Regions from separate parts of the Homo sapiens genome. Here all the other regions are linked to region 3. Evidence: fine-mapped expression QTL. A gene starts in region 3. Each other region holds a variant in brackets. All regions are shown on one strand. Distances are between the middles of the regions. Region 1 holds the start of LOC124900972 (a long non-coding RNA gene). Region 2 overlaps LOC100506639 (a long non-coding RNA gene). Region 3 holds the start of ANXA2R-OT1 (ANXA2R overlapping transcript 1).

What was found. PIP is the estimated chance that this variant, and not a neighbour inherited with it, causes the effect.
Region 1: its variant is the best candidate, but not a certain one, in a credible set for the expression of ANXA2R-OT1 in monocytes (BLUEPRINT, PIP 0.50).
Region 2: its variant is the best candidate, but not a certain one, in a credible set for the expression of ANXA2R-OT1 in esophagus mucosa (GTEx, PIP 0.73).

The regions. Positions count from the first base shown.
Region 1 is chr5:43,093,243-43,101,538 of GRCh38, reverse strand. It overlaps LOC124900972 (a long non-coding RNA gene), which reads left to right and starts at 4,046. Exons shown (of 2, transcript XR_007058762.1): 1 at 4,046-4,131; 2 at 4,752-8,296. LOC100506639 (a long non-coding RNA gene) reads right to left here. Exons shown (of 3, transcript NR_102752.1): 3 at 7,981-8,296. The variant C/T (reference allele first, on the strand shown) is at 4,567.
Region 2 is chr5:43,081,478-43,092,013 of GRCh38, reverse strand. The region is part of intron 2 of LOC100506639 (a long non-coding RNA gene); the gene reads right to left. Among named protein-coding and RNA genes, the nearest start is that of ANXA2R-OT1, 19 kb to the right of the region's middle. The variant G/A (reference allele first, on the strand shown) is at 3,496.
Region 3 is chr5:43,062,331-43,072,866 of GRCh38, reverse strand. It overlaps ANXA2R-OT1 (ANXA2R overlapping transcript 1), which reads left to right and starts at 5,428. Exons shown (of 3, transcript NR_104651.1): 1 at 5,428-5,569; 2 at 5,710-5,780. It overlaps LOC100132356 (a long non-coding RNA gene), which reads left to right and starts at 5,896. Exons shown (of 1, transcript NR_034127.1): 1 at 5,896-7,680. LOC100506639 (a long non-coding RNA gene) reads right to left here and starts at 5,844. Exons shown (of 3, transcript NR_102752.1): 1 at 5,081-5,844; 2 at 4,650-4,897. RefSeq lists an enhancer at 5,817-6,216.

The DNA of each region.
Region 1 (8,296 bases), 30 kb before region 3:
AAACTTACAGTCCTTCAAAGCTTCAAGCTCCTAGATGGTGAAACAATACATCTGTGCTGAGAGTGAGGAGAAGGATGCAATAGTCTTCCAGTTTTGTACTTTTACACTTCTGGGTCATCAGAAACCAAAGATTTGCCTTGGTTTCCCAAAGTGTTGGGATTACAGGCATGATCCACCACGTCCAGCTTCAATAATTATTATTTTTTATTTATTTATTTTGAGACAGAGTCTTGCTCTGTCACCCAGGCTAGACTGCAGTGGCGCCATCTCGGCTCACTGCAAGCTCCACCTCCAAGGTTCACACCATTCTCCTGCCTCAGCCTCCTGAGTAGCTGGGACTACAGGTGCCTGCCACCACACCCAGCTAATTTTTTGTATTTTTAGTAGAGACGGGGTTTCACCGTGTTAGCCAGGATGGTCTCAATCTGCTGACCTTGTGATCCACCTGCCTCGGCCTCCTAAAGTACTGGGATTACAGGCATGAGCCTCCACACCCGGCCCTCAATTATTTTTGATAGTTTTGTGTCAATATTTCCATGATATATAACAATTCCTTATTATTCTAGCAATCTTTTCCTCATCATTTTGTCTTAGTTCTACATAATTCTTATACTGAGGATTAAACTGAAGCATGGCTCTAACCCTGAAACTTCTCTAATAATTTTTAATCTCAATGATATTGTTTGAATATTTGTCCCCCTCCAAATCTCATGTTGAAATTTGGTTCGGGACAGAGCAGTGGCTTACACCTGTAATCCCAGCACTTTGGGAAGCCAAGGTGGGAGGATAGCTTGTGGCCAGGAGTTCAAGACCAGCCTGGGCAACACAGAGAGACCCCTGTCTTGATAAAAATAAAAAAGGCCAGGCGCGGTGGCTCACACCTGTAATCCCAGCACTTTGGGAGGCTGAGGCGGGCGGATCACAAGGTCAGGAGATCAAGACCATCTTGGCTAACACAGTGAAACCTCGTCCCTACTAAAAATACACACACACACACACACACACACACAAAATTACCCAGGCGTGGTGGCGGGCACCTGTAGTCCCAGCTACTTGGGAGGCTGAGGCGGGAGAATGGCATGAACCCAGGAGGTGGAGCTTGCAGTGAGCCAAGATCGCGCCACTGCACTCCAGCCTGGGCAACAGAGTAAGACTCCATCTCAAAAAATAAATAAATAAATAAATAAATAAATAAAATAAAAAAGATTTTGATAATATTGGAAGTGGGACCTAAAGGGAGGTGTTTGGGTCATGGGGGTCGAGCTATCATGAATGGCTTGGTGCAGCCCCCAAGTAATAAGTAGGTTCTCACTCTATTAGTACATACAATAAAAAGAGAACCATGTCAAAAGGTACCTGAGATACACCAAGAAAGCTCAAACTTGAAGACATGTTTTTAATATGTAAATGTGTATGAATGGATACATACAAGATGTGTTTAAAATCTGTTTGAGCTGCCACTGTCAGATTCAATGTATAGCTAGCATCAATTTGCTGGGGTTAGAGGGCATCAAGATCTTCCCAGAAATTCAGAGCCTTAGGTAATCCAAAGGAAGATTCTGTCAACATTTATACCTAAGCTTGACAGCCCTGATGCCTCTTTGGACCTGGCTTGGAAATATGATCCTCTATTGTAGCAATTGTACCTTGTTGCTGAATGATGTCATCATCCACAAGATGGATCCATTCTTGATTCTCACCCTATTGACTTTTTTCCATTGCAACCATAACATGGGCTAGCTGCTCTACACCTCTCCAGTGGACTTCAAGTGCTGCTGAGCTCAAATAAATCTTGTCTGTCCCACCATTTTAACCAGACAGGCAGAGCTCTTCTGTCTTAAGTGTCTCATAAATCTTTCAAATAGGTAAACTTCTAGTGCTATGCTTCCTCTGACCGTTCTGCTATTCTGTTTTCCTGTGCCATGGTTTCTCATTAGGTTTTCTACTGTTTTTTTGTTTGTTTGTTTGTTTGTTTTTCTTTTTGTTTTTGTTTTTGAGATGGAGTTTCACTCTTGTCGCCCGGGCTAGAGTGCAATGGCGCGTTCTCGGCTCACTGCCGCCTCTGCCTCTCGGGTTCAAGCAATTCTCCTGTCTCAGCCTCCTGAGTACCTGGGATTACAGGCACCCCCCACCAAGCCCAGGTAATTTTTTTTTTTTTTTGTATTTTTGGTAGAGACAGGGTTTCACCATATTGGCCAGGCCGGTCTCGAACTCCTGACCTCAGGTGATCTGCCCACCTTGGCCTCCCAAAGTGTTGGGATTACAGGCATGAGCCACTGCGCCCGGCCCTACTATTGTTTTTTGAAGCCCTAAATTCAAGGACAAAGGTCTGGCTTTGAAGAGAGTCACCATGTTCAGTAACCTTTCTGGTCTTCAAATAAGCTCTCCCAATGATCTTGGAGTTGGACTGTATTCTGAATGATCTCTTCACTGTGTCTTTGCTCTCTCAGTAGGTTGTAAGGTCTGTGAAAGCTGTAGCCAGTCCTTCATCTTTGTGTATATGGCTCCCATCACCGCATCTGGCATATGGAAGGATATCAACACATGCTTGTGAAATGTTGAAACTAATCAGACTTTTACAGTAAGAATGATATTTGACCAAAAAAATCTGCATTTGTATCTGTCAACTTAAAAGAATCACACAATTATTAATTTAGAAAGGAGATTTTCTTTTCTTTTCTTTTCTTTTTTTTTTTTTTTTTTTTTTTTTGAGACAGGGTCTCACTCTATCACCCAGGCTGGAATGCAATGGCACAATCATGGCTCACTGTAGCCTCAGCTTCCCCAGACTCAGGAGATCCTCCCACCTCAGCCTCCTTAGTAGCTGGGACTACAGGCATGTGCCATCATGCCTGGCTAATTTTGGTGCTTTTTGTAGAGATGGGGTTTCTCCATGTTACCCAGGCTGGTCTCAAACCCCTGGGCTCAGGTGACCCCTCTGCCTCAGTCTCCCAAAATGCTGGGATTACAGGTGTTAGTCACTGTCCCCGGACAACTTTCTTTTTTTTTTTTTGTAGAGACGCAGTTTTGCCGTGTTGGCCAGGCTGGTTTTGAACTCCAGGCTGGTTTTGGCCCCAAGTGATCTGCCCACCTTGGCCTCCCAAAGTGCTGGTATTACACATGTAAGCCACCATGCACAGACTTAATTTTATTTCTTATAATGTGTTATGGCCTGTAGGGTGGTTATTCTGACAGGCTGGAAAGTGTAGTCCCCAGCCAAAGACAGAAGCAGGCACTTTGAGGAAGTGGAGGGTGGAACAGGGATTTATGTTGAATGGGTTGACCAAGTATACGTATTCAACAGGTTACAGGAGGCATATAAATATTCATGAATGTGTTCCTAATGCATGTGTACTGAATAAATATGCCTGTTACATACAGCCCATATTCATTCTGGGGTGGAGACAACATTCAAATGTATTACAGTTAGGCCATATATGTCAAAAGGTGAAACAGGGACACGAAGGCACTCAAGTGCACAGCCTCTGTGAACAGTGCATGCTGGTGGTCTTCTTATTAGGAGAAAGTTACTGAAATCAGTCTCTTGTCCAATCAAAGCTGCATTTATAGCTTGTGGAACAAGGGCCTCAGTTAGTCACTGTCTGGCGATGGATGAACTGTAATGGTTTTAATAGTGATTATCTTGAGGCCAGCGCTTGATTAGCTGCTAGAAAAAAAAAAAAAAACCTTGTGGTAGTTAGAACATAATTTGTTTTTTAAGTGTAGAGATGTGTGATTCAACCCTTGCCTGGCACAGCCTTAGGTCTCATTTATAGTTTGGTGTCTTAATGCTATAAGGAGTCTGTTCTGTCAGTCTCATGATCCCTATTGTAATAATAATGCTAGTCAGTCATGTTTAAACTGCAAAAGGGAGTAGGTATAACAAGCTATGTCTGACCTCCTGTCTTGTCATAGCTAGGAACTCAGGTTTCTCTGGGGTCCCCTTGGCCAATAGAGGGTCCATTCAATTGGTTGGAGGCCTTAGGATTTTATTTTTAGTTCTCATACCCCTTGATGTTTTTGCAAACAGAATGTTTGACTCAGATGAAAACGTATTACAATACAATTTCATTATGGCTATGATATGAGAAGGAAACATAATCTACTTTCAGACAGAATACTCCAAGAAAGGTACCGTTTTACATTTGTTCTCATTACTTTATCTTTGAATCCATGATAAAATCAATAATAATGATATTAGTATTAATAGCAATTGACCAAATTATTTTCTGCTATGCTATGTTGAATATTCACTTTTATATGGAATGCCTTCATGAAAGCTACCTTGTAAAATGAGAGCAAATTTCACTTCCATTTCAGAGATGATAAAATAACCGAGTCAGCCAGCCAGAGAACTTGGCTTCTTGCTATTACACATATACACACACATTCTGAAATCCTTCTAACTTAGCAATTCATCAGTAAAAGCCAAAACTGGGCTTGTGAAAGTCCAAGTTAGGAATGTACAACTATCTCTGCCCCACCTCTAATCCAAAACCCAAACCATTCCTTAGGCATCTCCCCAAGAATTCCTCTGCTAAGAGACCTGGGTTTCAGAACTACCTA[C/T]GTGATTTGGGGCAATAATCATGCCCCAAATCATGCAGCATACTACAAGCCAGTGTCCCCCAAAAGAGCTTCCTTCTAGGAAGCTAATACTCTTCTTTTCAACTTCTAACCCAGTCTGTCACCAAAAGGATTTCATTCTAGAAAATTTCATCAAAGGTGATTGGCTTTTATGTTTATAACACCAGGCCATTCTTCTGTTGCGATCAGCTCTGGGCTTCCTGTCACCACCCAGCTTGCCCCTATCTGCTTGGGACTGCCTAATCAGCCAGAAGACCACAAAAAAGGGCACTCATCCTTTGTCACCTGAAACAGGACAGATGTGAAGCACTTTCAACAACTTGTGCTTGAGGCCTGGGATTCTGTAGAGCATGTTCCAGTGTACAAGAGGATTCAAGTCCCTGGCAGCCTGCTTTCTATCCAAAGCTGGGTCACCTCTCTTGGGACCACCAGGACATTGAATTGCTTTCCCATTCCTGTGGACTTCTGAAATGGGCCCACCTGAGACAAGAACCCAGAGTGCCTAGCACCTTTAGGCTGGGCACAGAACCACCCACCTAGGAACCGATGACTGCAACCCAGGAGGAGACACAGATGCCCCCAGAGATGCCCCCAAGTCACAGCCTCCCTTGAGCCCTGCCAATGCACTCCCTAACTGCCTCACTTGGCTGGATCACCCTGCTCCAGGAACAGACAACTGGAGCCTGAGAAATCAGATGATGGAGACCTACCAAGCATCACCCTCCTCCTGCCTCCCAACAGCCACCACCCAGTGTTCCAAGTCTTGTTGGGAGTAGAGCCCAGGAGCAGTGGCTGAGTTGATGCAAGGCTGCCTCTGCCACCTGCCTTTGGCCTCCTTGAGATTTCTTTCACTGAGACTCTTCAATGGGTGATCCTGTGCCAAAAGGTATTGCTACCATGACACCTCTAGGTTTGCTCAAACACAATGGTAGAGATCGTGCCTGCAGAGAACTTTGCACATGTGTTTTTGCCCACGTGATAAAACTGTGCAAAAATGCAAAATTCTTACCCATGCATGTTTCTGGTTTGGCTGCTGAGGAAGGACAGGGAGCAGAGGAGCTGGTGGCCGGGCCTGGGCCAGGACAGGTGCATGGCCCTTGGTGCAATAGGGAGGAGTCCAGCATGAACACAACTTTTATTGGTATAGAGGTGACTGGGTGTTTTAAAGGGAGACTGAGGGAATAGGGAGGTGTGTGAGTGAGGAAGACCTGCGTAGAAACAGGAAAGTGAAAAATTATAGAAAGTGGAAAGGGGGGATTGGTCCATATGAACTGAGTCTCCTAACTGGGGCTAAACAAAGCTAGGCTCCTGCCCTCCCACAGAGGCTGGGAGACAGGAGCCCTATTTTCAGGTCTTGCCTCGAACACACAGTATATTCTTTTTGTAGCCTTGATCTTTCTCAGTCAGGCATCTAAAGGAGGGCTAGGGTCATCCCAGAGTTGTGGCCTTGAGCTGTAAGACACTGTGTTAGTGTTTTTCAAGTCTTTATAGACCAAGGTTGAAGCTTAGTAAAGAGTACTCCCAGGAACCTGTCTAGAGATTGGTCAAGGAGATAATCTTTGTTAATGTCAACTGAAGAAAAAAAAAATCAAGCTTTTAAATATTTAAATTTATTTAGAAGTCTTTCTGAGGACTACAGACTGAGGACTTACAGCCCTGGAGGAGTCTTTTAGAGAGATTTTGCAGACTGCTTAGAAACAGCGTTTCTGCTCATAACTTATATACAGGTCATGGAGGTTTCAGTATGCCTTCAGAACTTACGTCAAACTTGCTCAGATTTTACATTAAAGCAGAATCACATCAATGCTTGGGTGCAAGAGTACATCTGGTTATAGATTATAGAGCATAATCACTAACCCTGTCACATATTATGTGTAGGAAAATATGTGTCACATATTATGTGCAAGGACTGAGTTCATTTATGTGTTTTGTTTGTTTGTTTGTTTTTTTGAGATGGAGTTTTGCTCTTGTCGCCCAGGCAGGAGTGCAGTGGCGCGCTCTTGGCTCACTGCAACCTCTGCCTCCCGGGTTCAAGCGTTTCTTCTGCCTCAGCCTCCCATGTAGTTGGGATTACAGGCACCCACCACCACGCCCAGCTAAATTTTGTATTTTTGTTAGAGACGGGGTTTCACTATGTTGGCCAGGCTGGTCTTGAACTCCTGACCTCAGGTGATCCACCTGCCTTGACCTCTCAAAGTGCTGGGATTACATGCATGAGCCACTGCGCCCGGCTCATTTATCTTTTAAGGAACATAGTGACTCAGACAGGAGATGTGGGGGGCAATGTGCTGTATCCTGCCTGTTGTTGTTGTTGTTGTTGTTGTTGTTTGTTTGTTTGGACAAACTCTCACTCTGTCACCCAGGCTGGAGTGCAGTGGTGCGATCTCGGCTCACTGCAACCTCCACCTCCCGAGTTCAAGTGATTTTTGTGTCACAGCCTCTCGAGTAGCTAGGATTACAGGCACCTGCCACCATGCCTGGCTAATTTTTGTATTTTAGTACAGACGGGGTTTCATCATGTTGGCCAGGCTAGTCTCAAACTCCTGACCTCAGGTGATCCACCTGCCTCGGCCTCCCAAAGTGCTGGGATTACAGGCATGAGCCACTGTGCCCAGCCCCTGTTTTGTTTTTAAAGCATTCTCCCAGACAGAAGGACATCATCACAGAGTCAGGGGCTTTGTGAAATTATGCTGGCAACGGAAATGAGCAAACATGGCTTTTTACATTGCAACTTTGTCTCAAGTAAGTTACTGGGGATGTGGGGCCAAAGGGGAGGCACCTTCCTGCACCATAGGAAAGCTGGGAATGGAAAGAGAAGCCAGGAGTGCAGGATGGAGATACCAGAGTACTCTGGGGGTGGTTTGCAGAGCTAGGACCTCAATTTTGGGTGGGGACCAGGATGCCAAACAAATCTCCAAATTGACCTCTGTCTAGGTTCCTGGATGCTGTTCCAGGTGTTGAAGAAGGGTCAACCTAGGATCAGTATGGTGGCTTATGCTGAACTGGGAAGATGCATGAGGAAGAAGCAGAGAGAACCAAGCAGTCACTTCGCAAGGCCAATTCTGGAAGAGCACATTTGGGGAAAATGGGCTTAAGTAGAGCCAGGAAAGTTCTAGTGGAAAGACAGGATTGGTCCAAATGAATTGAGTCTCCTAACTGGTGAGGCCAATTCTGGATGAGCAGATTTGTGAGAAATGGGCAAGGCCTTCCCTCTTCCAGGATATGTGGGTTTCCTTCATCACAGTGGCCACCACATGAATTTCTAGGATGAAGGGGTCAAAATCTCCTGGCAACCTTGAGCTTAAATTGTGTTTGTGTAACACCTTCCCTAAGGTTCCAATAAAATTACTAGGGGGTTTTACAGAGTGAAGTAGAAGGGACTGACAAAGACCCTCCTTGACCAAACCCTAGACACAGTCTCCTCACCCCTTTCCCACCTATGCTTGGACCTTGGACATTGCCTCAAGAGCCCAGTTTTAGCCAGCATCCCCTATCTTCAATATCTGATTCGCCCTCGATATCTGACCACATTCCTTATTCTCCAATTGATATCTGATCACCCTGGTCTGCCTATAGCAAGAATACTGTTAGGTCACTTTAGAAAAAATTAACGTATCCTTTTAGTAATTTTCCATTCACTAACCCCTGTCCTGCCCCACGTTCCATCCCTACCTCTCAGTCTTTGGCTGTAAATCCCTTATTTTCCTTGTAT
Region 2 (10,536 bases), 19 kb before region 3:
GTGTCAAGCTCTTGAGGTAGTTTGTCTTTAAAAGTCCCATCTCTACAGGGTTTTTGTTGCCTCAACCCTTGTTGCCTGGTTAGTGCTAGAAAAGTCCTATCCTAAAAGAGCCTACTTGGTGTCACAAATTAAGAGGTCTGTGACTGGTGATCCCCACAAATTTCTAAGTCACCAGAGGCACTGTATGCACAAACAGCATCCTTAACCATGTGTGGCAATAAGAATCTTTCTATCTTGGCCTATTCCTGGGAGTAAATTTTTGAGGGAGAGACTCTTTAGGATTGCCACTTCTATGCCTCTTCAAGAAACATCTTTTTCTTAAATGATAAAAACTTACATTAAACCTAGAAATTTATATCTTGGGTTTTCCAATGAAGAGGCTGTTGCATTGAATTAAGTATACCAGTGGAAATTCTAATTTCCAATGTCCAGACGATGGATCCTTTAAATTAGAAAGACTCCTAAACTCAAAAAACATTTTTAAAGATCTCTCATTCTCAACAATTGCCTTATTTGTATTTATAGGAAGATTACATTAAAAGAAAGACATACAATGGTGTCATGGCTAGCCTTAGAAATTCTCTTGACAAAATTAAAGAGCAAACCCCTAACTGAAAACAAAGTTAAAACCCTTTATGAGCTCAAACTCCTTACTTTGGATCCCATTCAAGATTCACTAAGTAGTCTGCTCCACCTTGTAGTTTAGATAAAATTCTCTGCTTTCACCAGAGTGGCCTGGGTTTGACTCCTGGGCAGGGAATCAGCCCCTTTTGGTTTGATAATCATGTGACTTTTTACTTTTGGGGGTACTCATTTGTTTTTCATCTTTTTCCTTTCCATGGACAGCTTTTGATTGTCTTCCATCTGTAAGGGCACATGGGGCTTTTTGGGCCTTTGTGATGGCCAGATGAGAAGCTGAGACCCTAGAGAGAATATAATCAGACAGATACAAATTATACCCCATTTGTGATTAGCAAAACTCTTACTTCTTTGAGCTATCTTTGAAGTTGGTTCTGGATCTTGTGAGTACTTCTTTGTGCCTCTTTGGAGACACCTCATGCATTCTTGGTTATGTAGGGTGTCTTTGGTTAAAAAGTTCAAAAGCCAGCAATGTTAGCTGTTTGTCTCAGCTAAAATCTGATAATAAGAAATTTTGAAAGATTTTTTTAATTAAAAAAGAGCTACATGGTCAGAAGTCAGCTTAATTAAAAGCTGATATTCAAGCCATATATATATATGAGAGACCCATACCAGTGGCCTAGACCAGTGGCCGTTGTGAGGACTGGGGACATGACCTGTGCCTCACTTTCCCTAGTCCAGCTGTGCCTCCTGGCCATGCTGAGAGAAATCAGGTCCTACAGAGACTGTCTTGAGAGCTCTTTCCTTTGTATTGGTCTCTACATCTGGTATATAACAGTTAAAATTACTTATTTCCTTGATTTTTCACTAAAAATCAGAGTTATTAAGCATTAATATTATAATTATTATGTATAATTAAAACTTCTAGGTTAGGCCAGGCATGGTGGCTCATGCCTGTAGTCCCAGCACTGTGGGAGGCTAAAGCTGGTAGATTGCTTTAGCCCAGGAGTTCAAGATGAGTCTGGGCAATATGGTGAAACCTTGTCTCTATGAAAAAAAAAAAATTTGCCAGGCATGGTGGCACATGCCTGTAGTCCCAGCTACTCAGGAGGCTGAAGTGAGAGGACTGCTTGAGCCCAGGAGGTCTAGGCTGCAGTGAACTATGATCATGCCACTGTACTCCAGCCTGGGCAACAGAGTAAGAGAGTAAGATCCTCTATTTCACAAAAAAAAAAAAAGGAAAAGAAAAGCCTTCTAGATACAAAAAATGCTTCTATATACAAAATATATACAACATACACAAAAACACTTCTATATGCAACATATACAAAAAAGATGTTTTAAATAAAGAAGATTGGCAAGGGCGCAGGGGCTCATGCCTGTAATCCCAGCAGTTTGGGAGGAGGAGGTGGGTGGATCACCTGAGGTCAGGAGTTCATGACCAGCCTGGCCAACATGGCGAAACCCTGTCTCTACTAAAAATACAAAAATTAGCTGGGTGTGGTGGCACGCTTCTGTAATCCCAGCTACTCAGGGGGCTGAGGCAGGAGAATCGCTTGATCCCGAGGGGCAGAGGTTGCAGTGAGCCGAGAACGTGTCATTGCACTCCAGCCTGGGTGACAGAGCAAGATTTAGTCTCAAAAAAAAAAAAAAGGTTATTAAAAAGACATAAAAATATAGTTGTTGGTAAGAAAAATGTTGTTCAGTTTTGAGGGTTTCGAGATGGGGTCTCATTCTGTTGCCTGGGCTGGACTGCAGTGGTGTTATCAGCTCACTATATAACCTCAAACTTCTGTGCTCAAGGGTTCCTCCTGCCTCAGCTTCCCAAGTAGCTGGGACTGTAGGTGCACACAACCATAATTGGGTAATTAAATATTTTTTTTTGTGGAGACGGGATCTCAGTTTATTACCCAAGCTGGTCTTGAACTCCTGGACTCAAGGGATCCTCCTGCCTCGGCCTCCCAAAGTGCTGGGATTACAGGTGTGAGCTGCCACACCTAGCTTAGTTTAGATGTTTGTTTTAAAGTTTTAAATTTTTAATAGTTAATAACAGATAAAACTAAATTTAAAAAATTATAAAAGGTTATAAAAGGTTTATACAAATCTTATCTTCTGTGGTCAAAACTAATTGAGGTTAGATAGACCTGTTCATAATTTTACTAAAATTAGCTTTAGCATTAATAATATACGGATATAGAGATACAAATTTTTTAACAAAATTTCCATATAAGAGATAACAAGCTCTCTAACAAGCCCTCTCCCCCTCCCCCTCCCCCTCCCCCTCCCTCTCGTCTCCCTCTCCGTCTCCCTCTCCCCGGTCTCCTTCCACGGTCTCCCTCTGATGCCGAGCCGAAGCTGGACTGTACTGCTGCGATCTCGGCTCACTGCAACCTCCCTGCCTGATTCTCCTGCCTCAGCCTGCTGAGTGCCTGCGATTGCAGGCGCGCGTCGCCACGCCTGACTGGTTTTCGTTTTTTTTTTGGTGGAGACGGGGTTTTGCTGTGTTGGCCGGGCTGGTCTCCAGCTCCTAACCGCGAGTGATCCGCCAGCCTCGGCCTCCCGAGGTGCCGGGATTGCAGACGGAGTCTCGTTCACTCAGTGCTCAATGGTGCCAAGGCTGGAGTGCAGTGGCGTGATCTCGGCTCGCTACAACCACCTCCCAGCCGCCTGCCTTGGCCTCCCAAAGAGCCGAGATTGCAGCCTCTGCCCGGCCGCCACCCCGTCTGGGAAGTGAGGAGCGTCTCTGCCTGGCCGCCCATCGTCTGGGATATGAGGAGCCCCTCTGCCTGGCTGCCCAGTCTGGAAAGTGAGGAGCGTCTCTGCCCGGCCGCCATCCCATCTAGGAAGCGAGGAGCGCCACTTCCCCGCCGCCATCCCATCTAGGAAGTGAGGAGCGTCTCTGCCCGGCCGCCCATC[G/A]TCTGAGAGGTGGGGAGCACCTCTGCCCCGCCGCCCTGTCTGGGATGTGAGGAGCGCCTCTGCCCGGCCGCCCCGTCTGAGAAGTGAGGAAACCCTCTGCCTGGCAACCGCCCCGTCTGAGAAGTGAGGAGCCCCTCCGTCCAGCAGCCACCCCGTCTGGGAAGTGAGGAGCGTCTCCGCCCAGCAGCCACCCCGTCCAGGAGGGAGGTGGGGGGGGTCAGCCCCCGCCCGGCCAGCCGCCCCGTCCGGGAGGTGAGGGGCTCCTCTGCCCGGCCGCCCCTACTGGGAAGTGAGGAGCCCCTCTGCCTGGCCAGTCGCCCCGTCCAGGAGGGAGGTGGGGGGGTCAGCCCCCCGCCCGGCCAGCCGCCCAGTCCGGGAGGGGGGAGGGGGGGTCAGCCCCCTGCCCGGCCAGCCGCCCCGTCCGGGAGGGAGGTGGGGGGATCAGCCCCCCGCCTGGCCAGCCGCCCCGTCCGGGAGGTGAGGGGCGCCTCTGCCCGGCCACCCCTACTGGGAAGTGAGGAGCCCCTCTGCCCGGCCAGCCGCCCCGTCCGGGAGGGAGGTGGGGGGGTCAGCCCCCCGCCCGGCCGGCCGCCCCGTCCGGGAGGTGAGGGGCGCCTCTGCCCGGCCGCCCCTACTGGGAAGTGAGGACCCCTCTGCCCGGCCAGCCGCCCCGTCCGGGAGGGAGGTGGGGGGATCAGCCCCCCGCCCGGCCAGCCGCCCAGTCCGGGAGGGAGGTGGGGGGTCAGCCCCTCGCCCGGCCAGCCGCCCCGTCCGGGAGGGAGGTGGGGGGATCAGCCCCCCGCCTGGCCAGCCGCCCCGTCCGGGAGGTGAGGGGCGCCTCTGCCCGGCCGCCCCTACTGGGAGGTGAGGAGCCCCTCTGCCCAGCCAGCCGCCCCGTCCGGGAGGGAGGTGGGGGGGTCAGCCCCCGCCCAGCCAGCCGCCCCGTCCGGGAGGGGGGAGGGGGAGTCAGCCCCCTGCCCGGCCAGCCGCCCCGTCCGGGAGGGAGGTGGGGGGGTCAGCCCCCCGCCCGGCCAGCCGCCCCGTCCGGGAGGGAGGTGGGGGGATCAGCCCCCCGCCTGGCCAGCCGCCCCGTCCGGGAGGTGAGGGGCGCCTCTGCCCGGCCGCCCCTACTGGGAAGTGAGGAGCCCCTCTGCCTGGCCAGCCGCCCCATCCGGGAGGGAGGCGGCGGGGGGGGTCGGCCAGCCGCCCCGTCCGGGAGGGAGGTGGAGGGGTCAGCCCCCCGCCCGGCCAGCCGCCCTATCCAGGAGGTGAGGGGCGCCTCTGCCCGGCCGCCCCTACTGGGAAGTGAGGAGCCCCTCTGCCTGGCCAGCCGCCCCGTCCGGGAGGGTGGTGGGGGGGTCAGCCCCCCGCCCGGCCAGCCGCCCCATCCGGGAGGTGAGGGGCGCTTCTGCCCGGCCGCCCCTACTGGGAAGTGAGGAGCCCCTCTGCCCGGCCACGACCCCGTCTGGGAGGTGTGCCCAGCGGCTCACTGGGGATGGGCCATGATGACAATGGCGGTTTTGTGGAATAGAAAGGCGGGAAGGGTGGGGAAAAAATTGAGAAATCGGATGGTTGCCGGGTCTGTGTGGATAGAAGTAGACATGGGAGACTTTTCATTTTGTTCTGTACTAAGAAAAATTCTTCTGCCTTGGGATCCTGTTGATCTGTGACCTTATCCCCAACCCTGTGCTCTCTGAAACATGTGCTGTGTCCACTCAGGGTTAAATGGATTAAGGGCGGTGCAAGATGTGCTTTGTTAAACAGATGCTTGAAGGCAGCATGCTCGTTAAGAGTCATCACCACTCCCTAATCTTAAGTACCCAGGGACACAAACACTGCGGAAGGCAGCAGGGTCCTCTGCCTAGGAAAACCAGAGACCTTTGTTCACTTGTTTATCTGCTGACCTTCCCTCCACTATTGTCCTATGACCCTGCCAAATCCCCTTCTGCGAGAAACACCCAAGAATGATCAATTAAAAAAAAAAAAAAACAAAACAAATATTTACGTATGATAATGAGAAGAACACTGTCCTAGATGGCTGAAATGCTAATAGTCTTTAATTCACTATTTTCTTATTCTGACTGTTGCAAAGATTTGTAGTTTTATTGATGATTCTCACTCATGTTCTAAAATAGGAGTTGGCAAACTATTGGCTGCCTGTGTTTATAAATAAAGTTTTCCTAGAACACAACAAAAAAAAAAAAAAAAAAAGAGATAACAAATGCAAGATTTTTTGTTCACCTTTTAAATACATTGCAAAAGAAAAAAGAGAGTTTGCCTCATGCTGTCTTTGTCTTTTTGACTGTTTAGAGAACTGAGTCTCCTCTCTATCAAAGAGTAAGGGTTTTTGCTTTTTGAAATCTTTGAATTATCACTTTGGCTAAATGAGTAACTTATTTGTGTAAGATAAGGATTACTTATGTGTAATTCTATTTTGATCCAGGGTTTGAAACCTTTCTTATTTTCCTATCAAGTGTTTTAAGCCTTTAATAGTTGACAAACTTCTCAAAATCAAATTTTATATTCTAAAATTAAGTCTTTTTGACCTGAAACTAACTTTTAATTTTGGTATATAAAAATCATATGGAAAACACTGTCAAATAGAAGTGGCATTTAACTTTGAGTTACATTTGCAGAAATGTGTTATTAATATGTGCTCCAAAATTGTATGAGATTCCTAAAATTATGATATGTCTTGGCCTATGTTATGATTCATATGATTATTGTGTTAAATTGTTATATGCCACAGAAATAAGCAAATTTTCTTGTCAATTGTGTCTTTTTTTTTTTTTTTGGAGGCGGAGTCTCACTATGTCACCCAGGCTGGAGTGCAGTGGCGCCATTTCGGTTCACTGCAAGCTCCACCTCCTTGGGTTCATGCCATTCTCCTACCTCCCTCCTACCTGTAGCTGGGAGTACAGGCGCCTGTAACCATGCCCAGCTAATTTTTTTTTTTGTATTTTTAGTAGGGATGGGGTTTCACCATGTTAGCCAGGATTGTCTTGATCTCCTGACCTTGTGAACCGACCACCTTGGCCTCCCAAATTGCTGGGATTACAGGCATGAGCCACTACACCTGGCTGTCAATTGTGTCTTTAATTACGGCTATTCTAAGTCTTTTGCCATCCATAGACATTTATTGTTTTATTTTCATTCTTCTTGAAAGACAGTTTATAATCAGCTATAGTCCAAAATTTGATTCTTCTTCAAAAAAATTCATAAGGATCCTGACAAGTACTCTTGAATACAGGTTTTTGATAACTTTGGAGATCATAACATTGAACAATGTGAAATTTTTCAAGACTCTAGTAAACAAAGTTAATAGGTTCATGAAAGTTGATAACTTCAAGCAGAACAGGAATGAATTACATGGAACTAAACTGATAAAAGACTAAAATAATTTTTGTAACTTTTTTGCTTAAAATATTGCTGATTCTTTTCCTGTTTTGTTTTTGAGTCAAGAAAAATTTTATTTTAAACATTAATATTTATAGTTTACAACAATTGGGTAAAGTATACTTTTGTGAATAAAATTGAAACATTTGCCGAGCGTGGTGGCTCACTTCTATAATCCTAGCACTTTGAGAGGCTGAGGCAGGCGGATCACGAGGTCGAGAGATTGAGACATCCTGGCCAACATGGTGAAACCCCATCTCTACTAAAAATACAAAAATTAGCTAGGTGTGGTGGCACGCGCCTGTAGTCCCAGTTACTCGGGTGTCTGAGGCAGGAGAATCACTTGAACCTGGGAGGTGGTGGTTGCAGTGAGCCGAGATCACGCCACTACACTACAGCCTGTTGACAGAGCGAGACTCTGTCTCAAAAAAAAAAACAAAAAAAAAAAACAAGGAAACATTTACCTTTCTCTACCTGATTTCTCCAAAATTTGGAAGCTATTCGTGAGTATTCTTAATTTATGGCAATATAGTTATTTGCATACACAGTAAGAATCTGCTTTCTTTTGTAACAGCTCACAATTGGATATACTGGTTATTTTACCAAGGCTTTAACTGGAATGATATATTTTTGGATATGACCAGACTGCTTTGAGCAATTTAGGTTGTCTTCACAGAGCAAATAAAAAGCCCCTTGGAAAGACTGGCTTGGTGCCTCATCTACATGGCTCCCTTACGAGGTTCCTGATGATCTTGTGGTAAGTAAATAACATCACCTTATGACAGGCCCAGGACTCTCCAGATATTTTGGGAACCTCAAAAAGAGAGGAATTCACTGGTTTTATACACACATATTTTACACAGTTTTATACACTGGTTTTATAAGCACAGTCTGATGGCAAATCTTTGGCTTGGCTTCTCAGCTTTAAGAAGCTTTTAAAAGTGTAACCTGAGATTCCTTATGAAAAAGTTCTAGTGGCCAAGCACAGTGGCTCATGCCTGTAATCCCAGCACTTTGGGAGGCCGAGGTGGGCGGATCACCTGAGGGCAGGAATTCGAAACCAACCTGGCCAACATGGCAAAACCCCGTCTCTACTAAAAATATAAAAATTAGCCAGGTGCGGTGGTGAGCGCCTGTAATCCCAGCTACTTGGGAGGCTGAGGCAGGAGAATTGCTTGCACCTGGGAGGCAGAGGTTGCAGTGAGCAGAGATCGCGCCATTGCACTCCGGCCTGGGCAACGGAGAGAGACTCCATCTCAAAAAAAAAAAAAAAAAAAAAGTTCTAGCAACACCAACTTAAAAAATGCCTACATCACTAATCACTATTCTTGCTATACTTTATGCAAAGAATCAGGCCAAATATAGTAAGACTAAAACATTTTACAAGTAAATTAGTCTTACTATGATTTGTCTTTGGTATAAATGAGAGACTAAAGAAAGAAAAATTGCGGGGGCCGGGCACGGTGGCTCGAGTCTGTAATCCCAGCACTTTGGGAAGCCGAGGCGGGTGGATCATGAGGTCAGGAGATCGAGACCATCCTGGCTAACATGGTGAAACCCCGTCTCTACTAAAAATACAAAAAATTAGCCAGGTGTGGTGGTGGGCGCCTGTAGTCCCAGCTACTCAGGAGGCTGAGGCAGGAGAATGGTGTGAACCCAGGAGGCAGAGCTTGCAGTGAGCCGAGATAGTGCCACTGCACTCCAGCCTGGGCAACAGAGCAAGACTCCATCTCAAAAAAAAAAAAAAGAAAGAAAAATTGCATTTCAGAAAAAACACTATAGTACACCTGTTATTAGACTCTAGCCCTGCCCATTGTTTTTGAGTTTTTGTTATTTGGCTACAATTTAGACCAAATACTAAATATTTTTGTCTCTACAAGTCTCTGAACTGATGTTTCCATTTTTCTTGGTTAGACTCACTAAAGATTAAAATTGTGCTTTTTCTTAAAGCCCTGCCAACTGAAGTTAGGCAATATAAACTTCAGGAAAAATCACCAGAGCAACTTACATATAACAGCTAGGAAGGGCAAATAAAAATACTAGGACCCCAAATTCCCTAAGTTGAAGGGAAAAGTCAAGCTTGGACCCAAGTCACATAAAATGGCCTCTTATTTTTTCCTCTAAATAGAGAGCTACAAAGACAAAAGGCTATATACCATCTTCAGTTTGCTCACAAGGAAATTTCTTGTGGACCTTGATATCTGTACCCTAAAATAGTTCTGTTGAATTTCACCCTAACAATGTAAATTAACAGCTTATCTTCATGGGTACTGGACAAAGGACAGAACTAAAGGACATCCCTCCACCCACCTGAACCTAAAATATACCCAATGTACCCCTGAACCTAAAATAAAAGTTCAAAAAATTGATTAGATTCAGATGTATCTTTGTCCACTCCTTTATTTTCAACTCTTTTTATCATTTTACTTTATGTCTTCAAAATAGCATAGAGTTTGAAGCTATAATTTCTTTCTCTCTTTTCTCTCTTTATTTTTCAAGAGATGAAGTATTACTCTGTCACGCATACTGGAGTGCAGTGGCATGATTATAACTCATTACAGCCTTTAACTCCTGAGCTCAACCAATCCTCCTGTCTCAGCCTCCTGAGTAGCTGGGACTACAGGTGTGTGACCCCATACCTTGTTGTAGTTTACTTAATCTATTAATGCAATTGTACTTATCTTTTCACAGGGTAGTTCAATACACTGAATGATTGTATAAGTGGGAAAAGTGGCATCCCCCTTGTCCAGTTTCTATAAGGTACAATTATACCTGAATAACTTTAGTTTCATGTCTCATCTTTTAGTTCTCACCACTAAACTAATGAATTATCTGGTTGTAGAGTTTGAGAGGGGATCTACACATGAAAAGTTTGGCCCCTCACATTCCACCCTCTTTTATTAAGCCAGCGCCTCCTGGAAAACTGTGCTATGCTTGCTTCTCCATGCCCCACATTTCATAGACACACAGCCTCACTTGAGGAAACTTGAGGTTGTGTAACTCTTCCTGAGGCTGGATAGATAAATGCAATTCTGCCGTCAAGAGGTCCATTTTTGGTGTTAGCATTAGGCCCATCTTCCAATTTAGTTTATTGTGTGTGATTTTCCTGTATCCCTTATTTCCAACCCTTCAATTCAAGATAACCATCCACAGTTGGTTATTTTATTACTAAATTGAATATTCTGTTGTTTACCTTTTTACATAGTTTTATTTTTATCAATATGTATCTACATATTGTGTGTTTTTGTTAATTTTATAAAATAAAACTGTGTTCTGTGAAGGGAAATTAAACTTTGGGACCCCAAACTCATTTAGCCAAAGGGAAAAGTTAAGCTGGGAACTGGGTCACACAAACCTGCCTCCCGCTTTTGATTCCTAAATAAGATGGCTACAAGATGAAAAGCTACATGCCTCTCCCATATTTTGCCCACAGGGAAATTCCTGGTGAGCTGTTAAAACTTCACCATGGCAATGCAAATTGATAGCTTATCTTTACATGTGCAGTCACCCTGCTCGCCAGACACAAATGCATATCTGATTGTTCCCTCTACCCCATTTTGTCTGTTATCTTATGTAAAATGCAGATTCCCCATATTTTTCCTCTGCCCCTTTGGTTTATGTGAAAACTGTGCGCTTCTCAATATC
Region 3 (10,536 bases):
CGAGCCACCCCTCCACTCTTCTGCTCCCTGCATACCTTTTCCTTCACTCACTCTTTTTTAGTCCTGCCCTCATGCCCAACTCCACTCCTAGGCAGACATCCTTTCAAAAGTCCACACTATTCTCCACTTCCACGTTCCCCATAGTACCCAACACATCAACCCATCCCCTAGCCCCATGCTTACCAAACTATCCTTAAAAAATCCTGTCTTAAGAATTCTCAGCCTGGCCGGGTGCCATGGCTCATGCCTGTAATCCCAGCACTTTGGGAGGCCGAGGCGGGAGGATCACCTGAGGTCGGGAGTTTGAGACCAGCCCGACCAACATGGAGAAACTCCATCTTTACTAAAAATACAAAATTAGCTGGGCGTGGCGGTGCATGCCTGTAATCCAAGCTACTCGGGAGGCTGAGGCAGGAGAATCGCTTGAACCTGGGAGGCGGAGGTTGTGGTGAGCCAAGATGGTGCCATTGCACTATATAGCCTGGGCAGCAGTACGAGTGAAACTCCGTCTCAAAAAAAAAAAAAAAAAAAAAAAAAAAGAATTCTCAGGGAGGTGGATTTGGGAATGAATTCCTGTCCTTCCACTTGGCCAGCCCTGCAATTATTGAAGTCTTTCTTTGCTGCAAAAAAGCTGCTGTTCTCAGTGCATTGGCCTTTGTGGACAATGGGCAAGATGAAACCATTGGGTGATTACACCCACCCTACCCAAAAAAAGACATTCTCTAAAAACTGTCATATCTTTTATCTATTCTTCTAAAGGACCATTTATCTTCTAAAATATCATTTGTGGCTGGTGCAGTGGCTCATGCCAGTAATGCCAGCACCTTGGGAGGCTGAGGAGGATGGATCACGAGTTCAGGAGATCGAGACCATCCTGGCTAACACAGTGAAACCCTGTCTCTATTGAAAATACAAAAAATTAGCTGGGTGTGGTTGCGGGCACCTGTAGTCCCAGCTACTCGGGAGGCTGAGGCAGGAGAATGGCATGAACCCCGGAGGCAGAGCTTGCAGTGAGCCAAGATCACGCCACTGCATTCCAGCCTGGGCGACAGAGAGAGACTCTGTCTCAAAAAAAAAAATCATTCATATTTCCATAAGTGCCCCTCTGCCCCTCCCCATCTCCTTAATGACATAGGATGTTTCTCAGCAACTTTGCCAGCCAGAGACCTCTGGCTGGCGATGCCCTACCTAGGCCTTGCTGGAGCCCAGGCTAACCACAGGAGATGCCCCATCTACTCGGTTTGCTGGGCTGTGCCTGGCATGTCCTCTGGTGCAGATCCTGTGGCCACCATGACTGTGCACTCAGCCCCTGGCAGGAGGGGTGTGTGAGCTAGTGAGTGTGGGGTTCCACTGGTAGCTCCAAGCACCAGCACAGGAGCAGGCTCTGTGTGGGACTTGTGGCTGGACCAGGCATGTTGCAAGTGACTCCTATGGTGGACTCTGGCATCCAGATGAGGGGAATGTGATGGCACCCAAACAGGGATGCCCGTGACCCCAAAGCCCCAGAGTGGGTGTTACAACATGCTAATAGCTCTTTCAGTCCCGCCCTCTGCAGCCCGAAAGATGTCAGCGTGTTAACAGCTCTGTCAGTCCTGTGGTCTTGCTCTGGCCTACAGCTCCAGGGCTGGTTTGGCCCAACAGCTGCTTCCCGTGTTACAGCCTTCTTTGTACCCGTGTTAGGTGGATCCCGAGTTGTTGTCCTGCATCCAAGAAGAATGAGGTTATGCTGAAAATCAAAAAGTGAGGAGGGCAGAGAGGAGTTTTATTGAGCCACAAAACAGTTCTCAGTGGAGAGGGGATTCGAGGATGGTTTCCCACCAGAAGTTGGGTGGTCTCTCTCCCAATGTGGCAGGGTCTGGGGCTTTTATAGGCTCAGAATGGGGGAGTGCATGCTGATTGGTTTGTGCATATGCAAAAAAGGCTAAAACAAAAGCACCACTCAAAGGTGGGCACAACTGTGTAAAAAAACAATTAGGGAAGGGCAGGTATATGTAAAATAGGTGAAGTGTGGGGATCAATCAGAGGAAAGTGCACTAAGTGAAGTGTGTGGATCAATCAGAGGGAAGTGTGCTAAAGGGGAAGAGAGATTCTTAATCCGGTCCATGGATTTACTGGAGACTTGTAGCTTGGCTTTCATGCTTTAAACTGTCTTTGGTTTGAAGGTGGGGTTTCACCAGGGACCCACCCTTGTCTCCCTAGGATTTGTCTGCCTCCTGCCACTATCATTAAGATGGTATCTAAAGTCTCAAATTTCACCACACTTTTGGATATTCAGTTCTTTCTATGATGCCTCCATGCACATTAGATTAAACATTAAAAAACTTGGCTGGGCGCGGTGGCTAATGCCTGTAATCCCAGCACTTTGGGAGGTGAAACCCTGTCTCTGCTAAAAAATAAAAAAAATTAGCTGGACATGGTGGCGGGCGCCTGTAGTCTGAGCTACTTGGGAGGCTGAGGCAGGAGAATGGTGTGAACCCGGGAGGTGGGAGCTTGCAGTGAGCCACTGCACTCCAGCCTGGGAGACAGAGTGACACTCTGTCTCAAAACAAAAAAATAAAAAAATAAAAAATAAAAAACTTATATTCCTTTTCTCGTGTTAATCTGCCTGTTGTCAGATGAATTCACAGCACTCTCTGCCCAGCCACTGAATCTAAGAAGGTGGAGAAAAAGTATCTCCTCATCTATGCTGGAAAGCATGAATGTGGATTCTTGCTTTTCTAATCTATGACTTGCATAGCTTCTGTGCAACATCCTGACTTCCCAGACAATTCACCTGTGCATACCACTTCTGTGTAAAGACTATCCTTGTTTTTTTTTTTTTTTTTTGAGACAGGGTCTTGCTCTATCGCTCAGGCTGGAGTGCAATGGCGCGATCTTGGCTCACTGCAAACAAGCTCTGCCTCCTGGGTTCACGCCATTCTCCTGCCTCAGACTCCCGAGTAGCTGGGACTATAGGCACCCGCCACCACGCCTGGCTAATTTTTTGTATTTTTAGTAGAGACGGGGTTTCACCGTGTTAGCCAGGATTTGTATTTTTAGTAGAGATGGGGTTTCACCGTGTTAGCCAGGATGGTCTCAATCTCCTGACCTCATGATCCGCCCACCTTGGCCTCCCAAAGTGCTGGGATTACAGGTGTAAGCCACTGCGCCTGACCAGTCTTTTTTTTTTTTTGAATGTTTAAAAATGTTTCCATTTTGTGCCACCTTCCTTTAGTCAACAATAACCCAAGTTTTGTTATTATTAGTTTATTGGTTTAGCCAGATTTATCTTGATGAAATTTTACAAAAATATACTTTGCGGCTGGGCACTGTGACTCATGCCTGTAATTCCAGCACTTTGAGAGGCCGAAGCAGGTGGATCACTTGAGGTCAGGACTTTGAGACCAGCCTGGCCAACAGGGTGAAACCCTGTCTTTACTAAAAATACAAAAATTAGCCAGGTGTGATGGTATGCACCTGTAATCCTGGCTGCTTGGGAGCTGAGGCAGGAGAATAACTTGAACCTGGGAGGTGGATGTTGCAGTGAGCCGAGATCGTACCACTACACTCCAGCCTGGGGAACAGAGCGAGACTCCGTCTCAAAAAAAATGCTTTTCTTTATTCTTTGTTTCTTCTTCTATATGACAAACAATGAAAGAAAGTATTAAAGGCTGGGCATCATTTGTGGTTTGTGTCCCACAGTTTGCATTCCAGATTTGATCTGGTGCCTAGAACCTGCATACACTTAGCATTGCCACCCAGCACCCAACTCTACCACATCTGTATTAGTCTGTTCCCACACTGCTATGAAGAAATATCCAAGACTGGGTAATTTATAAAGAAAGAAGTTTTAATTGACTCAAAGCTCTGCATGGCTGGGGAGGCCTCAGGAAACTTACAATCGTGATGGAAGGCACCTCTTCAGAGGGCCGCAGGAGAATGTGTGCCAGCAGGGGAAAATGCCAGGCAATTATAAAACTATCAGATCTCGTGAGACCCACTCACTAACACGAGAACAGCATGGGGAAAACCAACCCCATGATTCAATTATCTCCACCTGGTCTCACCCTTGACACATGGGGATTATTACAATTCAAGGTGAGATTTGGGTGGGGACACGGAGCCAAACCATATCAGCATCTCTCCTGATTTTCCAAATGCAAATGTCTTATAGTCTCTTGCTGAGGAATATACAGTTGCCGACTTGCCCTTTCTCTGACCACCCCACACAAACACCATATTGGAATCAGACAGAATCTGAATGCCGGAACTAGAATGCCTCCTCCTTTAGGGAAGTAAGCTCCATAACTCCTGTCCACATTCCTAACCTGGAAGAGTGACCCCTTCCCTCCAGAGGTGCTGATCCCACCATTTTTGCTAAAATAGGAAGCTAGGGTGGAAACGGAGAGAGGAATGGTGGGTGAGATATTTTGTTTTTTCAAAGGCTCTGCACAGTATCTTCAATTAGATAAAGTGGCTGTAACTTTTCTTCTATTGACACTGCCCTCTTTCCTTTATTCTACTGCCTGCAAAAGAAGGCAACTGAAGAAGCCTCAAGTACCAGGGCAGGTTTTGGCTAGCTGAAGAAAGGGTAAGGTATAGGGGGGAAGACTGGAGGTGACCATCTTGGGAGTGGGTGAGAAGTGAGAGCCCAAAATGGGTCTTCTTACCTCTCTGGTACATTCTGTGCTCTTCTCTGGTCTGACATCCGCCCAGGTTCATCCAGAAAAAGATGGAAATGATTTGAACAGGATAAGCTAGGGTGAGGATTAGACACGATGAGTTCAGCTGGAGACACTCATGGTAGAGTCTGGAGGTCTCTTTGGGGGATCACTTCCAAAAGTGCAGATTTTTAGAAAAACGAGAAAGGTTCTGGAAAGGGATGTTTTCCTTCTGCTCAATGGCAGTTTCAGGTTTCCTGTAAGAAAGGAGTTTGTAGCGTCAGTATATTTGACAAATGTGGGAGAGGGAAGATTCAAGAGCTTGAAATTGCATTGCACTTCCCAAAGATGGAGAAGACATCAGGGATGAATTTCAAAGGTGATAGAAATCGGGAACTGCCCTTTGAGGATTTCAAGGGGAGAGGGAGCAAAGGCCTCACCATCAATCCACACGTCCTGTGCTAGAGTCTTGCGATTCTTATTTCCCCTACCCTCCTGCAACGATTATTCCCATATATCAAGGCCATCTGACAGAGTTAACCATCAGAATTAAATAGCAGTTCCCACAGAGTTCCATCCCCTGGAGAGGTACCTAGCTGCCGGGGCAGGCCTGAAGCCTCGGTCAGGAGGCATTGAGTCTTTCACTCTCCACGGAGGTCTTGGACTGAGAACTTCAAGTTCCAAAGGGATGAGGTGTCGGCTTCGCCCTTAGGAGCCTGGAGGGCTCTGACCAAGGAGAAGGGCGGAGCCCAGCCACTGGAAGGTTTGTTTCTTGCAGTGGAAGACGGTTGGCGACCCGGATGGCTTTTGTTACCAGGGCCAGCCCAATCCGCCCGATTCTCGGTCCCTATACTGCCTCCTTTTCCCATGCGCATCGCAAGGGATCGGTTGATGGGGCCCTCAGTATGACTTCGCTAGGAAAAATAAAGGTCTTCTTAGGCGGGAGGGGACTGATTTGAGGACGGAGGGTGGGAGTAGTGCCAGCAGCACTTTGTCGTAGTGGCACTGGGTGGGCAGTTATCAGTTGCAGTCCGCTCGTTTCTCAGTGCCCACGGTTTCTCACTGACAGTGCAGCTCGTTTCTCAGAGCCGGCGGATGTTCATGGGCAGCACCATCGAGCCAGAAGCAGTATTTGTCCTGGTAAGTCATTTCTCAACTGCCGAAGTGTACTAGGTTCCAGTCCCGCTGGTTTCTCGAATCTGCTAGTCCCACACGAGCACCAATAGGTAAACCCAGCCGGCAGTTTCCGGCTAGCACTTTCGCTATTTGAAGACATTAGGAAGTTATGTGGTGGCTCCGTACCCTCCTTTCTCCATCCGAGGCCGGGGTCCTAAAGTCGGTGTCACGGTGGCAGCACCCAGCGTTTTGTTGGCTCTTTCGCCAGCAGCGCCGAGCGGGGGGTTTTCTGTCACAGCACTTGTTGCACCGAATTTCTCGGTCGCAGAACCTCTCTTTTCCGAGGGTCGACATTTTCTGCGTGACAACACCGTTGGTTCCGCCAAAATGGATGTTGTCCTTGGGAACTCCTCCGGCTGGCGTCACTCTTAGGGTCCCAGCACCGCCATTTCGCCAAGCCGAGTTCTCTTGGTCGCGGCACATCTTGTTCCTCGGTGCCTCCATTTTCTCGGTGGCGGCAGCGCTCTGGTAGCCGATCTGAGGGATTTGGAATCGCAGCCAGTTGCGCAGAGTCTGGGGTTCCCGGGCGACGCCGGCGCTGGGCGGGGGAGCCCGCCGCTCCTCCGAGCCAGAGGCAGAGGAGCTGCGCGGACGCCGTCTCTTCACAGCGCCGCGAGCGCCGACGCACGGGTTCCTGCTCGGCCTCCTGAACCCAGTCCCCCGGCGGCGCCGCTGGCGTCTCTATCGCAGGCCCCTGCGGTTTCGCCCGTCGTTGGCTTCTTGGTCCTAGCAAGTTTCGATTTCGCGGTGCCCGCTATTTCTACCTCTTGTCCAAATAACTAGCCAAAATGTGATTTCTCAGCCTAAGCAAGTCCCGATTTAGGGCATCGGTCTAGCCCTGGCTGCGATTTCTTGGTCCTAGGAAGTCACTGTTTAGCTGTAGCAAGGCAGACTTAACCGTGCGATGGTGACTTTTCTTTTTCTTTGGTTCTTTTTCTTTTCTCTTTCTTTCTTGATACGGGGTCCGGCTCTGTCGCCCAGGCTGGAGTGCAGTGCCGCGATCTCGGCTCACTGCAACCTCCGCCTCCCGGGCTGAAGCGATCCTCCCACCCCAGCCTCCGGGGTAGCTGGGACCACAGGCACGCGCCACCACGCCCGGGTAATTTTTTGTATCCTTCCTAGAGACAGGATTTCGCCATGTTGCCTGGGCTGGTCTCAAACTCCTGATTTCTTAGTCTGACCAAGTCAGAGTTTAGTTATTTCTTACCGTAGCAAGTTGAGAGTTATTCCAGTTTGCGATTTCTGGTTGTAACAATTCTGGCTTTAACCATGCCTACATAATTTTAGTAGTAGCAAATTCCTGTTCCGTAATAGGAGCCCCCATTATAGCCATGCGTGCGGTTTATAACTCCTGTATTAATCTAGGTACTGAAGAATGCAATTTAAAAAAATTTAGCAGTGTCTGGAATTTTTAAATCATACCAAGTTAGAATTCGCAATAGTCTCGCCCTGGCTATGCTGGCGATTTTTCACTCATGTAGAAGTTGGGGTACGTCGGCTACAGATAATTGTTGGTGTCGCAAATACCGGTTTAACCATGGCTGTTTCTTCTTAATCCGAGGAAACTTCGGATAGGCGCAAGAGGCACGGGTTTAGTGCTGACAAATATAATGGTAGGATCTCACCATTCGACCCTGTTTGCAATTTCTTTCTGTTTGTAGGATGCTTTGTATGTTTTGTATACTCAAAAAAAAAAATTTTTTTTTGGTGTATCTTGTTCTGGCAGCGAGGTTATCAGTGTATTTTGTTTTAATTTCTATTTGCTTTTAAATTTTTAATTATTTTTTAATTTAAATGTTACGGTATTTTTTTCTTACCCACTGTCTTCCCCGGTAGAATAAATGTGGCGTATTTCTTCTACTGATTTTCAGTGTCACGTCTCAGGTTCTTTCTAACTTGCCTTCTCCCGTGAGCACTGAAGGCGAGCTAGTTCCCCGCCGCTAGGGTTCTCTTCCGCGGCTCTGCTCTTACGCCGAGCCAGCGGTTTCGCATCCGCACTTTCGCCACTAGGGGCGACTCCGTGTTTTCTCGGTTGCCGCGCTCTTGGTAGCGCTGAACAAAACAACATTCCTTGTTCACAAGACTCACATGTTCTTTGTGGTATCGCTTCCTGTGTCCTAGCACGGCTACTTTCCCCGGGCTGGCTGTCTCACTGTCTCAGCACCGTGATTGGGCAAGACTGCTGGCAGGGCTTGGCCTCGGTTTTTCTGTCACAGGCGTATTTCACTGGGTAGGCGCTTTCTCGGTGGAAGCACCCTACAACCTTCCAACCACCGATATTTCTCAGAGACGAGTTTCTTAGTAGCAATGCCTTAACTGCGCCAAAAATAAAGTTTGCCACAGGACACACCGCTATTCAGTGTGACACTTGATATTGATGCAGGATTTTGGCTCCTCAGCTCAGCTAAGTCCAGGTTGTTGTTGTTGTTGTTGTTTGGAGACGGAGTCTCGCTCTGTCGCCCAGGCTGGAGTGCAATGGCGCCATCACTGCTCACTGCAGCCTCCGCCTCTCAGGTTCAAGCGATTCTCCTGTCTCAGCTTCCTGAGTAGCTGGGATTACAGGCACACGCCACCACTGCCACCTAATTTTTGTATTTTTCGTAGAGACAGGGTTTCACTATGTTGGCCAGGCTGGTCTTGAACTCCTGACCTCAGGTAATCCACCCACCTCGGCCTCCCAAAGTGCTGGGATTACAGGCGTGAGCCATCGCGCCCGGCTAAGTTCAGGTTTTTGTTTCACCATCATGAAGAAATGGGCACGCAGATATCGAAGAGTGAGTGCAGTAGAATTTACTAAGCGAAAAGGAAAGCTCACAGCAAAAAGAGGGGTCCTGAGAACAGGTTTCTGGTTGCCCCCTTAATATTTAAATACAAGGGCTTTTATTTAAAAGCTGATGGGGCTAGGTTCCCTGTTTGTATAAGGCGCAAATTCCTGGTGGCTCCACCCCCATTGCCCCAGTGCATATGCGGGCCCTTAGTCAGCAAGGGCACATTTAGGCCAGGCGCCTGTGCAAGTTCTTTTATTCCGGAGGTTCTCTGGGGACCCTTCCCTTACTGTGTGCCTAAAGCAAGCTGGCTGACTCCTTTTCCTGTGTCCCAGTACCCCTGGTTCCTCAGACTGTAACTTTCTCAGTTGCAGCACCGCTCACTTGTCAAAGCAGGATTGACCTCCGTGGCAGCACCGCTGGTGGGTCCAGCCCGCAGCTTCTCCTAAACAGTTTCGCTAGTTTCTGGGTCCTAGCACTGCTAGTGGTACCATAGCGGCTCTTCATGGGTCGTGGACTTGCAGGATGTTTGCCAACTCCATCCCACGCTGCCTCCCTAGGTTCAGCAGCCGGCCAAAAGGAACAGACTCCTGCAAAGGAACAACCTCGAGGGCTGGATATTTAGGAGCCACATTTATAGGGGCTTTTCTTTCTTTAAAAAAAAACACAACCGGCCATTAGAAGCATGACACTGAGTAATAGATAAGTCCTAATCATAGTCCTTAAGACATGTTTTCATAACTGGTATATGCACTTATATTTGTTTATCCACTTGTTTATAATAATGCATTAAACCCTAAAATTGACACACTAATTTTCAACAGTTATTATTTCAGAGATGCATGGTATCCATTTCCTGTTGTTCAATTTCTCTCCTTCCATCCGCCTTTACATTTCTATTTTTAAAATGTTAATTTTTTCCAAATTCCATCCTGCCACCTTTCTTTTCTTTTCTTTCTTTCTCTCTCTTTCTTTTTCCTTCCTTCCTTCCTTCCTTCCTTCCTTCCTTCCTTCCTTCCTTCCTTCCTTCCTTCCTTCCTTCCTTCCTTCCTTCCTTCCTTCCTTCCTTCCTTCCTTCCTTCCTTCCTTCCTTCCTTCCTTCCTTCCTTCCTTCCTTCCTTCCTTTCTTTTCGACGGAGTTTTACTCCTGTTGTCCAGGCTGGAGTACAATGGCGAGATCTCGGCTCACTGCAACCTCCGCCCCACCCCCTCCCCGGGTTCAAGCAATTCTCCTGCCTGGGACTACAGACGCGGGCCACCATGCCCGGCTAATTTTGTATTTTTAGTAGAGACGGGGTTTCTCCATGTTGGTCAGGCTGGTCTCGAACTCCTGACCTGAGGCGATCGGCCCGCCTCGGCCTCCCAAAGTGCTGGGATTACAGGCGTGAACCACCGCGCCCAGCCCATCCTGCCTTTTTTTTTTTTTTTTTTTTTTTTTTTGAGCCAGAGTCTCGCTGTTTCCCAGGCTGGAGTGCAGTGGCGCGATCTCCGCTCACTGCAAGCTCCGCCTCCCGTGTTCACGCCAATCTCCTGCCTCAGCCTCCCGAGTAGCTGGGACTACAGGTGCCCGCCAACACGCCCGGCTAATTTTTTTTTTTTTTTTTTTTTTTGTATTTTTAGTAGAGACAGGGTTTCACCGTGTTAGCCAGGATGGTCTCGATCTCCTGACCTCGTGATCCGTCTGCCTCAGCCTCCCAAAGTGCTGGGATTATAGGCATGAGCCACCGTGCCCGGCCCCATCCTGCCTTCTAAAACCATCTCGTCATATTCTCAAATCTTTCTGACCCTGTATGCTATATTTTCTGATATCCTTTTAAATTTTCTTACCTTTTCCTGTTATTTCCTTTTTATGCAATTCTTCTTTATAGAATTGTAGAGTTTAGCAGTTTTCTCATTTTGCTTTTGTTGCACCTGATTTTTAAATTTTCCTTTCCTTTAAGATTGATTTATTTCCA